2 separate regions of the Homo sapiens genome follow, and region 1 is linked to region 2. The links come from fine-mapping of genetic effects on gene expression. A gene starts in region 2. The other region holds a variant in brackets. All regions are shown on one strand. Distances are between the middles of the regions. Region 1 overlaps CEP152 (centrosomal protein 152). Region 2 holds the start of CEP152 (centrosomal protein 152).

Evidence for each region.
Region 1: its variant is fine-mapped to the expression of CEP152 in whole blood (TOPMed, PIP above 0.99).

Annotation. Positions count from the first base shown.
Region 1 is chr15:48,786,727-48,796,286 of GRCh38, forward strand. It overlaps CEP152 (centrosomal protein 152), which reads right to left. Exons shown (of 27, transcript NM_001194998.2): 6 at 9,284-9,434; 7 at 6,595-6,735; 8 at 4,511-4,650; 9 at 2,075-2,275. Among named protein-coding and RNA genes, the nearest start is that of CEP152, 20 kb to the right of the region's middle. RefSeq lists an enhancer at 8,107-8,386. The variant C/T (reference allele first, on the strand shown) is at 3,586.
Region 2 is chr15:48,807,302-48,816,861 of GRCh38, forward strand. CEP152 (centrosomal protein 152) reads right to left here and starts at 3,768. Exons shown (of 27, transcript NM_001194998.2): 1 at 3,660-3,768. It overlaps LOC124903487 (a long non-coding RNA gene), which reads left to right and starts at 3,397. Exons shown (of 2, transcript XR_007064626.1): 1 at 3,397-3,506; 2 at 3,630-4,608. RefSeq lists enhancers at 195-695, 2,918-3,479, 4,138-4,197 and a silencer at 3,772-3,962.

The DNA of each region.
Region 1 (9,560 bases), 21 kb before region 2:
AGTGGGAAAAGACCTTAACACCTTCAATTTATGGATTCCGGGGTCTGAAACCCACCCAGCACAGAATCAAGAATTTGTTCTGACTTTACTGTAGAGTTCTTCTATTGAAGGGGGTGGGGCAGTGGACAACAGAGTAATGCAGTGGGCACAGGGGTAGAAAACACTAGAAATTCCTTCCAATCCATCCCTAATGAAACTGTGTTTAAGTCAACAGAGAATGGAGACCCCCAACCCAATAAGGAAAAGCCACCAGGATCCACTCTTCTCCAGTCATCCAAGAAGGGCTACTGTCCAAGTCCAACTAACTTCAATGTTACCCTATGTTTGGCCAAAACTAACTTTAAAATAAAATAAAATAAAAATTTATGAAGCTACATCTCAAATTCTGTTTAAATATTCTATAAAGTAGACTTTTCAATAATTTGGTATAGCCTTCGTTTTTTTTTTTTTTTTTTTCTGGAAAAAGAGTCTCACTCTGTTACCCAGGCTGGAATGCAGTGGTGCAATCATGGCTCACTGCAGCCTCGACCTCCTGAGCTCAAGCAATCCTCCCACCTCAGCCTCCCAAGTAGCTGGGACTACAGGCGCATGCCACCATGCCCAGCTAATTTGTTATTTTTTCTTCGTAAAGACAAGGATTCACTATTTTGCCCAGGCTAGTCTTGAACTCATGGGCTCAAGTGATCCACCTGCCTCAACCTCCCGAAGTGCTGGGATTACAGGCATGAGCCACCGTAACTGGCCTTCATCTTTCCCTACTCCTATATATCCTCCACATTGATCAAATTCACAATTTTTTTATATAAAATAAATACATAATGAAATAGATATAATAAAAACACACATAAATACATGTAAAAATAAAATAAAATGATAAATAATTATTGCCAGTAATGCACTCTTATATAGTTCTACCTAAAAGCATGGAAAAATTAGAGGCAGCTATATAGGTCAGAAATAACCCAAATCAGCATGAATTTTAAGTGTGGTGAAATTTTCCATACCCTCACATCTGATTTTTCTTCTCTCCTTCCCTTAAGTTAAATCAATTTTGAAATTACATTAAGAAAAATAAATTCTGAAATGTTATTCACTCAAGTGATTACCTAGAGTTATGGAGCACAAGCAAACTCACCACCTGACTCACATTTAGCTTTCAATATTTTATTCCCCCTTGAGTGAAAATAATAAAAATTCACTGTGCAATATGCTCAAGATGCAAATCTCATTAAGTCTAGATCAGACTGTCTTATTTTATAAATTATACTGTCCTCAAAATTTACTCTCTTCCCAAGAATCATTTCTCAACAGACTGTATTGCTGTATTGACAGGTGAATTACCAAATGCTGGGAGACTCAAGTAAGGTTTTCTACTGGTTAAGCTTCCAAGGTAACCTCTCAAGTTCTAGCCAGCCGCTGGCAGACTCATTTGTTTTGGTCTGGATTTATTCTAGGACCATATAAACAACATACACAAATACCCTACAAATAAAGGACAAGTAATGTGAAAGTTGAGAAAGTACTAATAATCGTATAAGAAGTAGGGTTTCCAAAAGTATACCTTTAGGATGTATTCTCAGATTAAAATATCACTGGCTTCTTTTTTTTTTTTTTTTTTTTTTGGGGAGACGGAGTCTCGCTCTGTCGCCCAGGGTGGAGTGCAGTGGTGCGATCTCAGCTCACGGCAACCTCTGCCTCCCGGGTTCAAGCAATTCTCCTGCCTCAGCCTCCCGAGTAGCTGGGATTACAGGCACGCACCACTGCGCCCGGCTAATTTTTTTTTTTTTTTTGTATTTATAGTAGAGACGGGGTTTCACCAAGTTGGCCAGGCTGATCTTGAACTCCTGACCTCAGGTGATCCGCCTGCCTTGGCCTCCCAAAGTACTGGGATTACAGGCGTGAGCCATTGCGTCCAGCCAATATCACTGGCTTTTAAGTTTCACTCACCTCACACACAATCTAACATTTACTACAAACATCCAAGACTTCTATATGATGAACCATAAAATATCAGTTACAAAACATAACCAGCTTTACTTGTTGATAACAGTTGCTCATTTGAAATCATCCCAACCTGTTCTTTAAGTGCGGTGACTGTGGCATCCAAATTCTTTTGTAAGGACAATACTTGCTCTTCGTACTTCTTTGTGAGGCCCATAACAATGCTCTCATGCTGTTCTCTAGCTCGTTGAAGTGATTCAGAATGATGAAGGTCCACCAGCTGCTGCTTCAAGCTTTCCAGAGCCATTTCAGTTGTTCTGGACTTCTTGATCATCTAGTAAATACACACAGGATATCCATGTTTAAAATATACACAGAGTATTTTAGCTCTGTGCTGTCTATAAACTTTTACTTTTACTATAAAATAAAACTCAAGCATGTTTTAATGAGAGTAGAGAAGGGGTCTCCGCTCATCATGGCTCAAGCTCCTTAAAACAACCCTAGCTGGGACCCTCCAGGCCCATAGTTGTTGGAAACAATGTTCCCTGAGAAAATACATTTGGTAGATACCTGAGGGGAGTGAAAGAGGATTTTGCGCAGCATGATGGATGTGGCTATCAGGCACGGAATCTGCTGATGCCGTGATGGCCCCAGTGCTGTTTGCATTGCTCTATGACCAAAGTGTGGGGTAACCCAATTGTTAGGTCACAGAAAAATGACAACTGTTCCTTGAAAGACTGATGAAACCTGCCAATGGTCACTTACTAAAAACAAAGTTTTCAAAGCTGTAACTGCACAGTTGGTATTGTAGGCAAAATCATAGCCCTCCAAAATGACCGTGTCCTAATCCCCAAAACCTGTGAATCAGTTATATTACATGGCAAGGGAAAATTAAGATTGTATGTGGAATTAATATGGCTAATTAGATTGCCTTAAAATAAGGTGAGTAGCCTGGATTATCCAGGTGGGCCCAATGTAACCACAGGGTCCATAAATGAGAAAAACTAAGGCAGAAAAGTCAGAACCAGAGAGACTCAATCAGCCATTCATTGCTGGCTTTGAAGATGGAAATGGGCCACAAGCTAAGGAACACAGGTGGCCTCTAGAAGTTGGAAATAGCAAGAAAATGGATTCTCCCCTAAAGCCTCCGGAAAGCAATGCAGCCTTGTTGACACCCTGATTTTAGCCTAGTGAGATCCATGTCAGACTTCTGACCTCCAGAACTGTGAGATAAATTTGTATTGTTTTAAACCACTGAATTTGTGGTCATCTGTTACAGCAGCAATAGGAAACTAATACACTTGGTGATTCTGCTGCTTACATAAAAAAGATTACAAAGTTATAACCTTTTACTACATAAAGGCAACTTAACTTTTTAATCTAATAACTATTGGTTTTCAAAAAGTTAAAAATAATCTACATTACATACAAAAATTAAAATTTCAAGAGAATTATTCTTCATTCTATTCCAGAGATTGCCTATTTATTCCAATACTGCTTTCATGGCTAAGAGATCCATCCACTGAATGACACAGATCATTTGTGCCAGGCAGGGTTCTAAGCACTAAGGACATAATGACCAAACAGAAAAGGTCTAAGCTCTTACTACTTTCTAGTGGGAAGAGACAATAAATAACAAGTAAA[C/T]AAATGAGATCATTTCAGATAGTTATAGAGTAATAGAATATGGCATGATGAAGGTGAGTTGGAGGATGGAGCTATGGGCTACCTTACATATAAAGTGAATAGCAAGTCCTCTGAAAAGGTAATTGTTTTTAGCTAAGACCTGAAGGATGAGGAGAAGCCAGACATGAGACAACACTGTTTAAACTCTTTCATTAAACCATCCTCAGACTTAGCTACAAGTCTCACTCAAAACCAAGCTCATTATTTCATAGTCACTTTCATTTTTTTTTTCTTCAGACAAGTCTCGCTCTCGTCCCCCAGGCTGGAGTGCAATGGAGCAATCTCAGCTCACTGCAACCTCCGCCTCCTGGGTTCAAGCGATTCTGCTGTCTCAGCCTCCAGAGTAGCTGGGATTACAGGCATCTGCCACCACGCCCAGCTAATTTTTGTACTTTTTAATAGAGACGGGGTTTCACAATGTTGGCCAGGCTGGTCTCAAACTCCTGACCTCAGGTGATTCGACCGCCTCGGCTTCCCAAAGTGCTGGGATTACAGGCGTGAGCCACTGCATCCGGCCATCACTTTCATTTTTAACCCTGCCCCCTGCCAAAAAATGAATCAACCACCACCAGGCTTAGCTACCAATGACTTATGACTATTTCCAAAAATCAAATGGCTATCTCATTAATCAAAGAATGTGAATGTGTCACCACTTTAAACTCAAGTTTAAAAAACAGTTCTCCAAATGGAGAAGCAGCAGGAAAAATAAAAATAAAAGCTTCTCGGGATACCAATTCTGAAGCAAACTATTGCAGTCAGGAAATTTAAGTTCTAATGCTTTGTCAATAACTTCAAAGTTCTTCTAAATTTAGTCCTACCCTACAAAAAGTTTTGTTAAATAACTAAACTTTTAATTTTTTTACCATACATAAGTTAAAATAGGTACCTGTTCTTCATTGACTTTTAATGCTTGTATCTGAGTCTCCAGTGCTTTTATTTGAGCTTCAAGCTGTATCTCTCTTTCTTTTCCATTCTGAAAGAGTTTCTGTGATTCTCGAAGGCTGAGAGTCAAACCATCCTTTTCATCTACGGTATTAAAAATGTTTATATAAATAATGTTCCTGTAGAGGGACCCCAATGTCACAATCCCAATCAGATGTCACGTCTGTATCATATATAAATGTTGTTGAATTAAATTTAATTCAGAAAAATGAACTTTAGTTGATTTAGAGAAAACTAAATAAAGAATTTACTTACTTACTTATTTATTTATTTTGAGACAGCGTCTCACTCCGTCGCCCAGGCTGGAGTACAGTGGTATAATCTTGGCTCACTACAACCTCAGCCTCCCCAGTAGCTGGGATTACAGGCACCTGCCACCACTCCCAGATAATTTTTATATTTTTAGTAGAGATGGGGTTTCACTATATTGGCCAGGCTAGTCTCGAACTCCTAACCTCAAGTGATCCACCCACCTTGGCCTCCCAAAGTGCTGGGATTACAGGCGTGAGCCACCTCACCCAGCCCCAAATAAATAAATTATTAAAAATTAAAAATTAAAAAAAAAAACAAACCTGATACCAAAAAAATTTTTTTAGAGAAGCAGAACTACTTCCTTTAAAACTATTATTGCATCCCTTTTGGGGACAAATCCCTGCTAATCAAAGAAGTTATCTGAGGACTAATTATCCTACACATACTTGCAATGAACTCTTTTTTTTGAAACGGAGTTTCGCTCTGTCGCCAAGCTGGAGGGCAGAGGTGCAATCTCGGCTCACTGCAAGCTCCGCCTCCCAGGTTCACGCCATTCTCCTGCCTCAGCCTCCTGAGTAGCTGGGACTACTGGCGCCACCACACACCCAGCTAATTTTTTGTATTTTTAGTAGAGATGGGGTTTCACCATGTTAGCCAGGATGATCTCGATCTCCTGACCGCGTGACCCGCCCTCCTTGACCTCCCAAAGTGCCGGGATTACAGGAGTGAGCCACCGTGCCCGACCCACTTGGAATGAACTCTTAAATTCACCTAATGTTAAATTCTTCCCACATACTTTGCTATAACAGCTCACAAGTTCTTCTCTCAAAATAAATGTTATGAGCATTACAGAAAGAGACATTTTTACCATCAATTAAATTTGAAATGAGCTAGAGTTCAATCACAAAAGTATTCTGCAAATGAAAGTTCAACGTGGACCAAAACTAGAGAAAGCACAAGGAGTAAGCAATTATAATTTGAATCTGTATTTACTCTGTGTGTTTATCCCAGACATGGCACTTCACAATCACTAACTCTTATTTGGATTAAAACGTTTATGCTAATTTGTAGCCTCAGGAAACGCTGCAGTGCAAACTAAACACAAATCACTCTGAAAGCTGGAATACTTCATCCAGAGTAATGACATAAGGAATCAGACATAAGGAATCAACAACTTTTTAGGACAGAATGCCATCAGTACAGTTAAATAATGTTCAATGATTCTAAAAGCCTAAGTGAGAAAAGGGAAAATATAGGGACTCCAAAATAGAGTGTCTTTTTTTTTTTTTTGAGACAGAGTCTCACTCTGTCACCCAGCCTGAAGTGCAATGGCGCTTTCTCGGCTCACTGCAACCTCCGCCTGCAGGTTCAGGTGATTCTCCTTCTCCTGCTTCAGCCTCCCAAGTAGATGGGATTACAGGTGCCTGCCACTATGCCCCGCTAATTTTTGTATTTTTAGTAGAGACAGGGTTTCACCATGTTGGCCAGGCTGGTTTTGAACTCCTGATCTCAAGTGATCCGCCCACCTCAGCCTCCCAAAGTGCTGGGATTACAGGCGTAAGCCACCATGCCTGGTCTCCAAAACAGCGTGTTCCAAAGAGAAGTAATCCAAGGCCAACACTCAGAAATCCTGGGTTTTGTTTTGCTATGCCTCACTCACTATGAGCCCTCTGACCAAGTGTTTTTACTCTCTAAGCTTCGTATGTAATCTGAGGTTATTGGAAACAAGATATCTAACTCAGTGTACCTCATAAATGACAGCATCCAGCATCTTACCTTTTATTATTACAAGCTGGTGATTCAGATATCGAATTTGACGTTCACTTTCATTTAACTTTTCAATTAAGTTCTCCAGTTGTCTCTCTTTTGCTTTGTTAAGAACCTGAAGTTGAATAATCTGCATATTTTCTGCAGAGTCTGGGAATTAAAGACAATTTATTAGATAAAAACATACCAAAATATAAATTTATAGTCATTTAAAGCAGTGTTTTTCAAACTGTGACTACAACCTTTTAGAGCATCATGAAATCAATTCAGTGAATTGTGACTAGGATTAAAAAAGAGAGAGAGAATATATCAGAGTGCATCATGTAGTAAGAAACAGTCTTATTTTGTGAAACTTGTTTCATTTATATATACCTGTTCATATAGATACATGTTGTACACCATATCACAATGTAAAAAAATATAGTTCTTACAGTGGGTCACTGATAGGAAAGTTTGAAAGTCACTGGTTTAAGTTATAACCCTGAATCACTAACTACCATTTTAGCCAGTTAAAAATCAGTATATAACAACTGCAATGAAATAAAGTAATATGCTGTCAGAAAATTAAAAACAAAACAAGTACATCAGCTTCTATAAAATCATTTTTAAAGAAAATTTCTAGACAGCCTCAAAATATTTTATTTTAGGCAGGAGTGGGGAAAATATTATATTTATATTGATGCTGGCACATAACTGAATTAATTAGCTAGTGAATAGATTAATCAAGAATTTTGGGGAGGGAGCAGGGGAGAAGGGTTGAAAAACTATCCATTGGGTACTATGTTCACTATTTGGGTGATGGGTTCACTAGAAGTCAAACCCCAGCATTATTTAATATACCCATATAACAAACCTCCAAATCTACTCCACGAATACATAATTTAAAAAAAAATTTTTGAAGTCTTCTTTTAGAAACAATTAGTCATTTGGGGACCACTTTAAAAAGAGAAAAAAAATGGAAAAAAGGATTGGTAGGTATGCTTCAACTACATAATGATAAATATTCTACTTACTACTAGAACAATGTTTCTGTTAGCTTACAATCAGAAATAAATGCATTTACTGAGTTTTAACCACTTGCTAACTAAATAATTCTGTCCTCTTTTTAGAAAGAGATCTGGTTAAATAAAGAAAATTAAAGACTGAAAAGTTTATACAAGTCAAACTCCTCATAGGTCTTATAGTAGAGCTAGCCCCATCTCCAAATTTTTTAAATTACTGTTGCTAAGAAACTATAATCACTAATTTGGCACTACCATTAAGTTATTTAATTAACTTCCAAATGTCAAATTTAGACAAATGTGTAACTGACTCAACTTGAAGAAGTGCAGAGTGTTAAGAAAGGTAAGGAAAGGTTTTTATATGCAGAAAGACCAGGAGATACAAATACAACTTTTCAAGGGAACTGAAAGAGTAAACACTAAGGAGATGTCAGGCCACTGCTGTGAGGTTCATTTACTCAACCTAAAACCAGTTATGTCATATACACTGTCCACTTCCTCATTCCACAAAAAACTTAAGAACAAAGAGAGGCCATCCTCATATTTGCTGTTGACTCCTTCAGGGGAAAATGAATTCTGGGCCTCCCCCTGTAACTACCCTGCCGTCCCAGTGTACGATGGAAGCAACAATATGAAGTCACAACCCAAAAGTCCAGTTTTCTCTTTGGTATAGCCCAGGTAAGCCAGAATATCCAGTATGACCTTTCCCCTACTAATTAAAGGGAAACAAAAAGTAAAACAAAAACACTTGCTGCCACACTCTAGAATTACACTGGCTCTTCAATATGCACAATAATTAGAAGCTATTTAGTGTGCCAGACAGTATGACAAGAGTAATTCAGTACAGTCACTATACGGGTTTATATTTTGGGATTTTTGTTTTTTGATACTAGCATTTCATCTCAGAATTCTCTAGTACCTATAAGCACTTTTTTCATTCTCATATTTATATACATACTATACAAAAAAAACTGGCAAATGCCACATGACTGAACCTGATATCTAAGTAATTCTGAATATAAACTAATTTATATCAGAGTTGACTAAAAACTGTAAAATCAAAAGAAAAAAGTTGATGATAGTGCTGATGTATTAAATTACACTTCTATATAGTCAAAAATCTGAGATTGAAAACTATGTTTCATTTTCCAAATTAGGCTTCAGTCAAAAAAATATATAAAGTTCATAAAAAGTCTTTTAAAATTTTTTTAAATTTCAAATAAGTCCAGGTATCCTGTATGATAGGCGAGGATACTTAACACTATACAAATAAGGAGAAAAGGCTTAACAAACTAGAATGACTGAAATATAAAGTTGGAAAAATGTCTTTTAACTTTTCATTACGAAAAATTTCAAATATATAAGAAAGTAAAGAGAATAATATGATGAATCTCCACGAACCCATCTCCCAGATTCAACAATTATGAACTCATGGCCAATTTGGCCACATCTATATTCCCACCCAACATTACCCCTCAACAGCCTATTATTTTAAAGTAAATCCTAGACTTCATGTCAGTTTATTCATAAATACTCTAGTATATATCTCTAAAAATAAGGGCTCTTTGAAATATCAAGCACAATTCTATTGTCATACTTAAAAAATAATAATTCTTGAATGTGCTCAAATATTCATTGTGTATTCAAATTTCCCCAATTATGTGGTATTAAAAAATAAATATAAACTTGATACCTACTCTCATTAGCTCCTAAAAATTGTTGTTGCAGGCCTTCGAATGTGTCACTTCCTGTTATCTCCTGGGCTGGTGAGCCATTATTCTGGGCAGAAGACTGATAAGGTTTATATGTCACTTTATTATACGGTTCCAAACCTTGACAACTGGGACCCTGTGATAACAAATGAAACTGACAATTAAGATTTGGCCTTTTCTTCCAAAATTATCTGAATTAGACACCTAAATTAATGTTACGTTACAGAACTTACTTTTGGTACAGTTCAAAGTTGTTTATATA
Region 2 (9,560 bases):
AGGGAAAAACACACAATCTCATGTCTCTAGATTTTTTTCCACTATGCAAATAGACTTAATATTCTACAGAACACTATATATATTGAAAATACTAGCCCAATTAAATCCTATGTCCTTAAAAGAGATGCCTGTAGTCCCAGCTACTCGGGAGGCTGAGGAAGGAGAAGGGCGTGAACCCGGGAAGCGGAGCTTGCAGTGAGCCGAGATTGCGCCACTGCAGTCCGCAGTCCGGCCTGGGCGACAGAGCGAGACTCCGTCTCAAAAAAAAAAAAAAAAAAGAGATGAAATTAAGCTGGACCTTAAAGAAATTCCTGAATCCTCCAGGCAGAAAAAATCCTTTCTGTTTCTGAATTCTGTGTCTTCTACCTTTCTTTCATTCAAATATAAATACAAGACGAAATATGGAATTTGGGTTACTTTCTCCTTCATTAAGTTAGAGAAGAGAGGTTTGTTCCCATCCTTTATTAACCTGCCATCAACTGATGTTGATTATTGAAAAAGAACATTAAGATTTATAAGAGCCTATTGCTAAAAATGTAGCTACTAATATTTTAAATAGACAGCTACTTTTTCTCAGATAGAGAATACTTAGGGTTTTGTTTTTAAAGAGAATGTAAAATATCAAAGTATATATCTTTAATGTTATTTTAAATTCAAAACATGTCATTAAAGAAGACATCTAAAAATACCTGAAAAGACCAAAATCTCCCCCACTGAAGAAGGTATAAGTTTTCCTTATCAGAACTATAAACTATAAAAGACTTTAAGAAATGATTTCAGACATAAAGGGAAACCTGATCAACTTAATGTGGTTAAAAATATATATAGTAAAAAGGTAATACATATTTTAAATGAGACTTAAAATAAAAGCTAATACCTTAACTTATTAATCACCACTCATTATCACTGCTACCAGAGACTTTAGTATAATATTCAGAACAACAAAAGAGACTTCTTTAAAAAAAAAAAATAGCAAGATAGTAAATCCAAAAGCCATAAAGAAAAATGTGATGGAAACCTAACCACAAAAAATAAAATTTTGTTTAAGGCAAAAGACATCATTAACGAGTCAAATATTATATATGAAAAAATACATCAATAACAAAGTCAAGAAAAATAAGAATAAAAAAAATTTGCAAAGCACCTGACAAAGTCCCAATATAAAATTATTACAAAGAAATGAGAAAAAGACAATCCAATATAAAATTGGGCGACTGACATGACAATTTATTTTAAAAAGTGTAAATCAATTAGTTTGAAAAGATGCTTAAGCTCGTGATGTTTCAAAGAAGTGTCATTTAAACAATATGCCATTTTCAACCACTAGATTGAAAAAACAAACAAACAAAAAAAAAACTTGTTATCACCCAGTGGTGACTATTTTGTATTTTGTATGGCTCATGAGTTGCTGGTGAAAATATCAACTGCTAAACCATCTTGAAAACTATCAATATTAATATATTGAAAATTAACATTTACACTAGTAAAATTATTTTGAATTAATTTGTCAATACTATGCCACTAGTAAAAATACTGAAAATTTTCTATATCTATTGACTCAAGGCTGACCACTTGAGAAATCAAGATGCAGATTAAGTATACAGTATGTTTTGGTTTTCTTCTTCAATAGCAGTCTGGTAGACTTTCTTCCTAGATAACTTTTTCTGAACCCTTAACAAGACTATAAAAAGTATGTCTTGTTGTTACACTCAGATGGATGCTCTGACCCAGCATTCCTTTTGTTGTCCCCGGTTGTTTTCTCTGCCCTCCTTGCAACAAAAGCAATGGGTATTTGGACAAAAGATTACAAAGCAAAAGTAGCATTGTTTTTGCTTCATCTAATAAACTATAAGCACCCTGAAGGCAGAATTAAAATGTATCTGCCTGCTTGCACATGGTGGGTACATAACAAATATTTGTTGACTGAATATGATATAGGCATGTTACCTTATACGAATTCATTACTTCAATAAAATTTTATTGAATACCCACTGTGTTCCAGATCATATCCTAGATGCACCTAAGACATGGTACCAGCCATGAGGAGCTCACTGTCTCTGCTCACCCTCTCTTAGATAGAGCCACTGATATAAACAGTTACAATAACATATTGTAATAAATTCCGTAGTAGATGAAAGTACAAAGCACAAATTACTTTTCCTAAGAAGAAAGGATAGTTTAGAGAAGTTTTACAGAAAAAAAAGAGCTTTTAGATTAGAAATAAATCTTAAAGGACACAATATGGCTATAAGTGGTTCTAAGAATGAGGGCACTCATTCAGACAACCTGGGCTCAATTCTGGCTCTTCTATTTATCAGCAGTGCAATCTTGAGCAAACTGTTTCTGCTTCTACGTTAAAGAAATGGGGGTAAAAATAATACCTACTTCAAAGATTGATTCTGAGGATTCACAAGATACTACATGTAAAGTAATTAGCACTATGTACCAATCAATACATTGTAGTTTTATTACTATTATGACATTATTACTGATGAATAGGAGTCTGCCAGCTACCGAAGAGGTTTAGGGAATAAAGAGGATTCCGCATATCTGAGAAAAGGTGAATGTGCAGCCTATGAGAAATGTCACTTCTAATAATGCAACCTCCTATGGAACAAAAATGCCACCCTCCTTCAAGATGCCCTCCCAAGCCTGTTCCCCCATGGAGCTGGCCACTCCTTTGCACTTTCAGACTGTATTTCTTATGCTTTTCTTATGGCTTCAACTTCAGCTTCTCTTTAGTTGAGTGCATTCACCTGTCTAGGGAGTGCATGTTCATTGTCACGCACTATGAAGGTATAAGGTGATAATAGGCTTAAATCAGACTCAAGTTCATGACTACGATATAGGAAGGGTTATAAACCCCCACAAAAGGGGTTTCTAAGAACTGCACTTGGAGTTGGGAAATTCTACTTACTTGCTGACATAACTCGCCTTCTAGAATGGAAATAGCCAGAGCACATAGCCCGGTTTAGACTTGCAACACCTGGTGGAGACACCTTATTCATTCATTCGACAATTTACCAAGCACTGTTCAAGATTACAAAGTTTAACAGGACACGATGAAGGGAAAGAAAATAGACATATAAACAAATGATCACAACATCTTGTGATCAGTGCTAATAACAGCACTTTGGACAAATTGATTCAAGTTGCCCAGAGGGCGGAGCGAGTAATGCTAATACACAATAAGCATCCACAGGCTGAGCGAATGACCTTGAGGAACTGTTTGGCGTCAGCTACGGCACTACAAACATGACCAAAGCCGCACGGGGCCCAGGATGCCCGGGGCTACTGGCTTCGGGTGCCAGCGTCACTTGTACTCGGTCAACACACGTGCACAGAGCACCTACTGTGAGCCAGGCGTGACGCCAGGGTGACCAAGGCGGGGTCCGCAGAGTAGGGTCTCAGGGCGACCCCAGCAGCCTGGAAACGAGGCGGGCTTCCCATATGTCACTTCTAAGTAGGATATTGGAGGAATGAAGAGGTCTAAATGACACGTTAAGGTAAAAGCTGAGCCCGCAACATGCGGGCAGTCCACCACCGCGGGATTTGGGGAGGGGGCAGGTCAGCCCCCCCAGGAACCCTCAGCCAGCATCCCGAGGACCCCGCAACTCCTCTAACCCCAGGTCCAAGCTCACCCGTGAATCAGAACTTACCGGAGGCCACGGAGGCTGTTACCGCGAGGAAACTCTAGTCCTGGCGGAAGACCAACTTCTAGCAGATCCCCTTACCCTGGCTCTAGTCCACTAGCTCCTTCCTAGTCACAACCGAACTCACGGGGCGGAGGCCCTTAAGGAGCACTCGCATCCTTCAATCGCCGACTAGAAGCTCGCCCGGTGGGCGGAGCCGTGCCAGCTCAGGGCAGAGCGAGGAGGCAGAAGTCTCCGCCTTCCTCAAGCTTGGTTGAGAAGTCCACCTGCAGTTGCAAAGTACGGCTGTTTGAAAGCGGGCGCCAGAGGTGGCGGGAAGCTCCCCCTGTGCGCCCATTGGTGGATTCGAGAGCCAATTACGAGGAAGTCACCCCGGAGTGGGCGGGCTGATCGGTTGCCTAGAGACGCCGAGGCGCTTCACCCGCTACCTTCGGCCAGGGTGCAGCAGTCTTACGGGGACCCCTTGCCCGTTTGGTACCGGAGACTGCAAAGGTGACTCGTGCCTCCTGCGCTTCAGCACACAGAATCCCGCAGATTCCCCACCGAACTCTTGCCTTAGAGGTTTTTTACATTTGCCCTTGTTTTCTAAGGCGCCTGCTTCCCCATTATTTAACAGCCTTAGATATTTTGCTTTGTCTTCTACCTTACTAGGTGCCGCTTTGTTTACATTTTTGCTTCTTTAATTACTGATAAGATGGCACATTTTTCCACGTGTCTATTTACTACTCTAATTTCCTCGGGTGTGAGTGTTCTTGTCACTTAGGTGTATATTATTAACCTGCCCCTAAAGACAGCGCCACCCAGTCCTCAGTAAAGCCCAGTACTGTGTCTATCTTCTCTGGCTGAAAGGGTTCCAGTGAATAATCAAGGAATTGGTGGCGGCAGGTTCACATATCCTTTCAACCCTTTCCCATGTGTACTGGCACGGAGTAAAATGGTTGTTCGAGGCTCTTCATACTGTGGCTGGTTTTCCTTTGCTACTTCACCGTCCGCCCCCATGATGCCTACACTGACCCCTGTAACCCCATAAACTGGTATAGGGTTTGGCAAACAACAGGTAATTTAACCCACTGTAATAGAATGAACGAAATCACAGCCTGAGCTAACAATGGTTCCCAGAGCGCTTTTTTTCTTTCACCTGCTGTGAAAGCTGTTTCTTTCACCTGCATCGCCTCTACCTTCTCCTGCTACTTAGTTTTGAAGACAGACTAGCACCTCCTTTGAAGCCTTTCATGACACACACTCCCTCACTTCGCAAAAATGATCTTTCCTACCTCTGTACACAGTGTATCCTATATATCCTATTATAGTTCTTTTATCTACTGTAAGTTTTTGTGTGTCTTACACTCAGTACAACGTGAATATCTTGAAGTACTCACTTTACTTCTTGGGTGTCTAACATGACCCTGGTAGGCACTCAAAACAATTATGTTAAATGAGTAAATGAATAAATGAACAAATAGATGAAGATTTTGGCAGGGGGGCAGGCAGAAAAAGCAAATAAAAGGCCTTCAAGTAAATGGCATTTGTTGAATCTGAGCCAAGGCATCTTAGTGAGAATTAAATGCACTTTTCACTTTTCACATCCCACTGAAGTCGATTGGCAAACTGTATGTTGCATTCTGTGCTGAGGGTTATGATGGAGTGCTGCAGCAAGAATGCCAGGTGATCCCCATGCACAAACAACTGCTTCTTAGAAGGATGAAAGCATAAAACGTGTCAGGGTAAGCACATGAGGAGGCAGTGTTTATAATCCATTACACAGTGCTTTACAGATTGGTAAATTCTTTCACAAGCATCATCTCATTTGGTTCTCACTACAACACTGTGGGGGGTTAGGACAGGTATTCCTACCCATTTTCCAGTTGAAGAAACTTACATAAAAATAAATTAAATGACTTGTCCAAGGCTACACAGCTAATACAAGGCAGACAGAATCTGAAACCAGGTCCTTTATCTCCAAACCCAGAGCTCATCACTACATACAAAATATTTTAGTGAGACTAGCATATACGTGACAAAGAGGGAAAATAAAGAATAAATCAACCTCCCATCCTGCCATGCCTCTAAAAATGGTTTTTGGTGGAGTTATGGATATATTCAACTAAATTTCTTTGACCACCTATCCTGTTTAAGTCCTGGCCTAGGTGCAGGGTAGGACCCCTATGCTCAAGGTACCAACACTCTGAGTTACAAGATGCTTACGTAGAAAGATAAATAATAATAAAAATTGTTTACTAAGTGTAATAAGAGTAGAATAGGCAATAATTCTAGGGAAAGTGAACACCTAAAGATGAATCTATCAAGGCAGGTTCAAGGAAGAAGAGAAGGAGAGAGCTCAACAGGTCAGTTGATTAGCATGAGTGCAATTTAAAGGCCAGACCAGCAAAAGTGCAGGAATCTTACATTTAGATGTAAGTCTGGAGAAGAAGGCAGGAAGGAGGTGGTCCATAGAAGAGCTTTAAGCCTGGGAGAATAGGAAGGGCATTCTACAGAGGTCAGGTAATGGTGTGCACAAGGAATGAATCTAACATCCAAAGAAACACAAGCAGACAGAGGCATTCTGGGATAAGAAAGGCAAGTGTGGGAGAAGAAAGTAAAACTGCCAAAGATCTCAAATGCTGGACAAAAGATTATTTGTGAAACGTTGGCTCGATGTTTACCTTGCATGTTTTAAATGGGCACACCTATGAGCTGGGTGAGACATTTCAAGAGAAAATGTCACATTGTTGATGAGATGGGGTCCCTCCCACTAACAAGCATTTATAAAGGTAAAGCTAAACCATTATTTCTCCTTTTTCCTCCTTTTTGGTGTCAAAGCTATCAGGTCAAAGCAATGTCATCACAGGAGTGCTATCCAAAGTGCTATCATCAAGGAGTACTATCTTCAAAGGAACACAGAACTTAGAGTAAGAAGATCTGAGTTCAAGTCCCAGTTCTCCTACCTACTAGCATTGTCCATAACAATTTAACACTCAAAAGCCTCAAAGTCCTTATCTGAAAATAGGGATGATAATACCCACTTCTCAGGATTGTGGCCAAAAAAAAATGAGATGAGATTGTGAGAAACAGCTTTTAAATGTAAAAACATTATTTTCCATTGTGTTTCTATGTACTATGGCTTATTGGATTAGAGTACACACTGGGGTCTGAGGTAGTAAGGAAAAACCAGGAAGGTGTTCTGGGAGTGGATGGCAGAGAAAGACAAGGGTGAATGTGTGCCGAGGGCAACAGGAGCTTATGGGATGGGACAAACAAAGAGTCTACACAAAGGATATGGCTTCATGAGAACAGGACAAAAATAGGAAGTGCTAGAGATGGAACAGGAGTACTTGGAAAGAACCAAGGAAGATCAGACCATTATTTACATCTTATTCAACAGTATTTTGGGAACACCTACTTTGTGCCAAACACTGTGCTGGGATCATTTAATATTGACATGTGGATCAAAATGCCCACTCTGCTCAAGTCCCTTCTCACAGAATCTGCTCCTGCTCACAGTCATTATGACCTCACCACCATCACCATCCTACCACCCACGGTCCTGGCCAGACTTGACTGAATCAAAGGGGAACACTAGACCCAAGCTGGGCCAATCGTATTCCCTTCCCAGATAACTAAGATTCCACAAAACTGAGCAAGGTGGTAGCCATACAGAGGAGAAGCAGACTTTTATTACACTTGCCTGTATTTTATGGGAAATATGCTTCCTCCATAACTGTGTCATATACATGGTAGACCCTAGACTGAAGATCATGAACTTTTGCCACTGAAAGCCATGTATCTGTCTGGTTCCTGTACTTTGAAAAGCCAGACAGTTTAGCTTTTCCTTGCATTCTGTGATAACTAAACCTTAAAAACTTTTTGACTTGAGCTGGCTTGGGTCATTGTAGAGGTTGAATCATGTTCCCTAAAATTTCATGTCCACCTAGAACTTCAGAATGTGACTTTATTTGGAAATATGGTTTTTGCTGATACAATTGTTTAATATGAGCTCATTCGGGATTAAACTTAGGTAAAGCTAAACCATCATTTCTCCCTTTTCCTCTTTTTTGGTGTCAAAGCTATCAGGTTAAAGCAATGTCATCACAGAAGTGCTATGCAAAGTGCTATCAGCCTTAAGTCTAATGACTGGTGTCTTCATAAGAAGAGAGGACACAAAGAGACACATAGGGAGAAGACAGCCATGTGAGGGTAAAGGTGGTGATTGGGGTTAGATTGCCATAGGCCAAGGAACGTCTGGGGCCACCAGATGCTGGAAGAGACAAGAAAGGATTTTTCCCTAGAGCCTTTGGAGGGAGCATGGCCCTACCACATCTTGATTTCAGACTTCTATCTTCCAGAACTGTGAGAGAATAAACTTCTGTTGTTTGCGGTATTGGTTACAGTAGCCCTAAGAAGTTAATAAAGGTAGGTTTACATTCTTGGCAACCAAACATTCATGACTAAGATACATTTTTAGTGATTATATTTGAAAAGTCTAGACCAGTGATACTCCAAATAGGGCCATGGTCCACTGGTATACCTCATTTGTATTAAATGATACAAATGCCCAAGGCATTTCTTCAATTATCATAGGAAAATAATTTGTAGATTTTTATTTTTACATACAATTAGAAATCCACCAAGTAAGATATAGGAAGTTACTAATGTTAAGAATTTGTAAATTAAAATGAGTGCATTTTTCGGGTTTATCAAGAATGATCATCATTTGGATGTGCAATATTACAAAGCTCTTGCTCATGCACAGTTGAAGGTAATTGGAATTCCCAGTTTTGGAAGGAGGATGTTAATAGCACCATTCCCCCAGGAAGTCATGGTCTTTACGAGCTGTTATTACTGTTTATTTATTAACTATGTTTGGCTTCATCAATATCAAGTAAGCTTATTGTGAGTTGTTTGATTAAACCAACTCTATGTAGTGTTAACTACTTTAAATATTTTCACTTTTTCTATAGCGACTTTAAAATAATATACATTTGGGTGGGGCGCCATGGCTCATGTCTGTAATCCCAGCACTTTGGGAGGCTAAGCCCGGCAGATCACCTGAGGTCAGGAGTTTGAGACCAACCCAGGCAACATGGCGAAACCCCGTCTCTACCAAAAATATAAAAATTAGCAAGGCGTGGTGGCACATGCCTGTAGTCCCAGCTACTTGGGAGACTGAGGGAGGAGAATCACTTGAACCTGGGAGGCGGAGGCTGCAGTGAGCTGAGGTCAGCCACTGCACTCCAGCCTGGGCAACAGAGCGAGAGTCTGTCTCAAAAAACTAAATAAATAAATAAAATAATAGACATTTAGAGGTTCGAGTTCTTATTACTAAAACAATCAACTTGTAATTCCTCTGAAATTTGCTTATACTTTATGAAAATATGCTGGCTATGAATTTTTTCTGCTTAAATAACATATTTATCAAGGCAAGTGTGAAAAATTACTTGTTTTTTGAAAAATAGGGCAGTATTTAGGAATATAAAATCATATGAATGAGATCATACTCCTCTCTTAAAAGTAAGTAAATAGGCCGGGCACGGTAGCTCATGCCTGTAATCCCAGCACTTTGGGAGCCCGAGGACGGTGGAACACAAGGTCAGGCGATCGAGACCATCCTGGCTAATGCGGTGAAACCCTGTCTCTACTAAAAATACAAAAAATAAAAATAAAAATAAATTAGCCGGGCGTGGTGGCAGGCACCTGTAGTCCCAGCTACTCGGGAGGCTGTGGCAAGAGAATGGCGTGAACCTGGGAGGCGAAGCTAGCAGTGAGCAAAGATCGTGCCACTGCACTCCAGCCTGGGCGACAGAGCGAGACTCTGTCTCAAAAAAAAAAAAGTAAGTAAGTAAATAATTCCTATTGTTCCTCTCCAGTTCTCTGTTGTCACCAAGTTCTTTTCTCCCTGCCCAAGAAAGA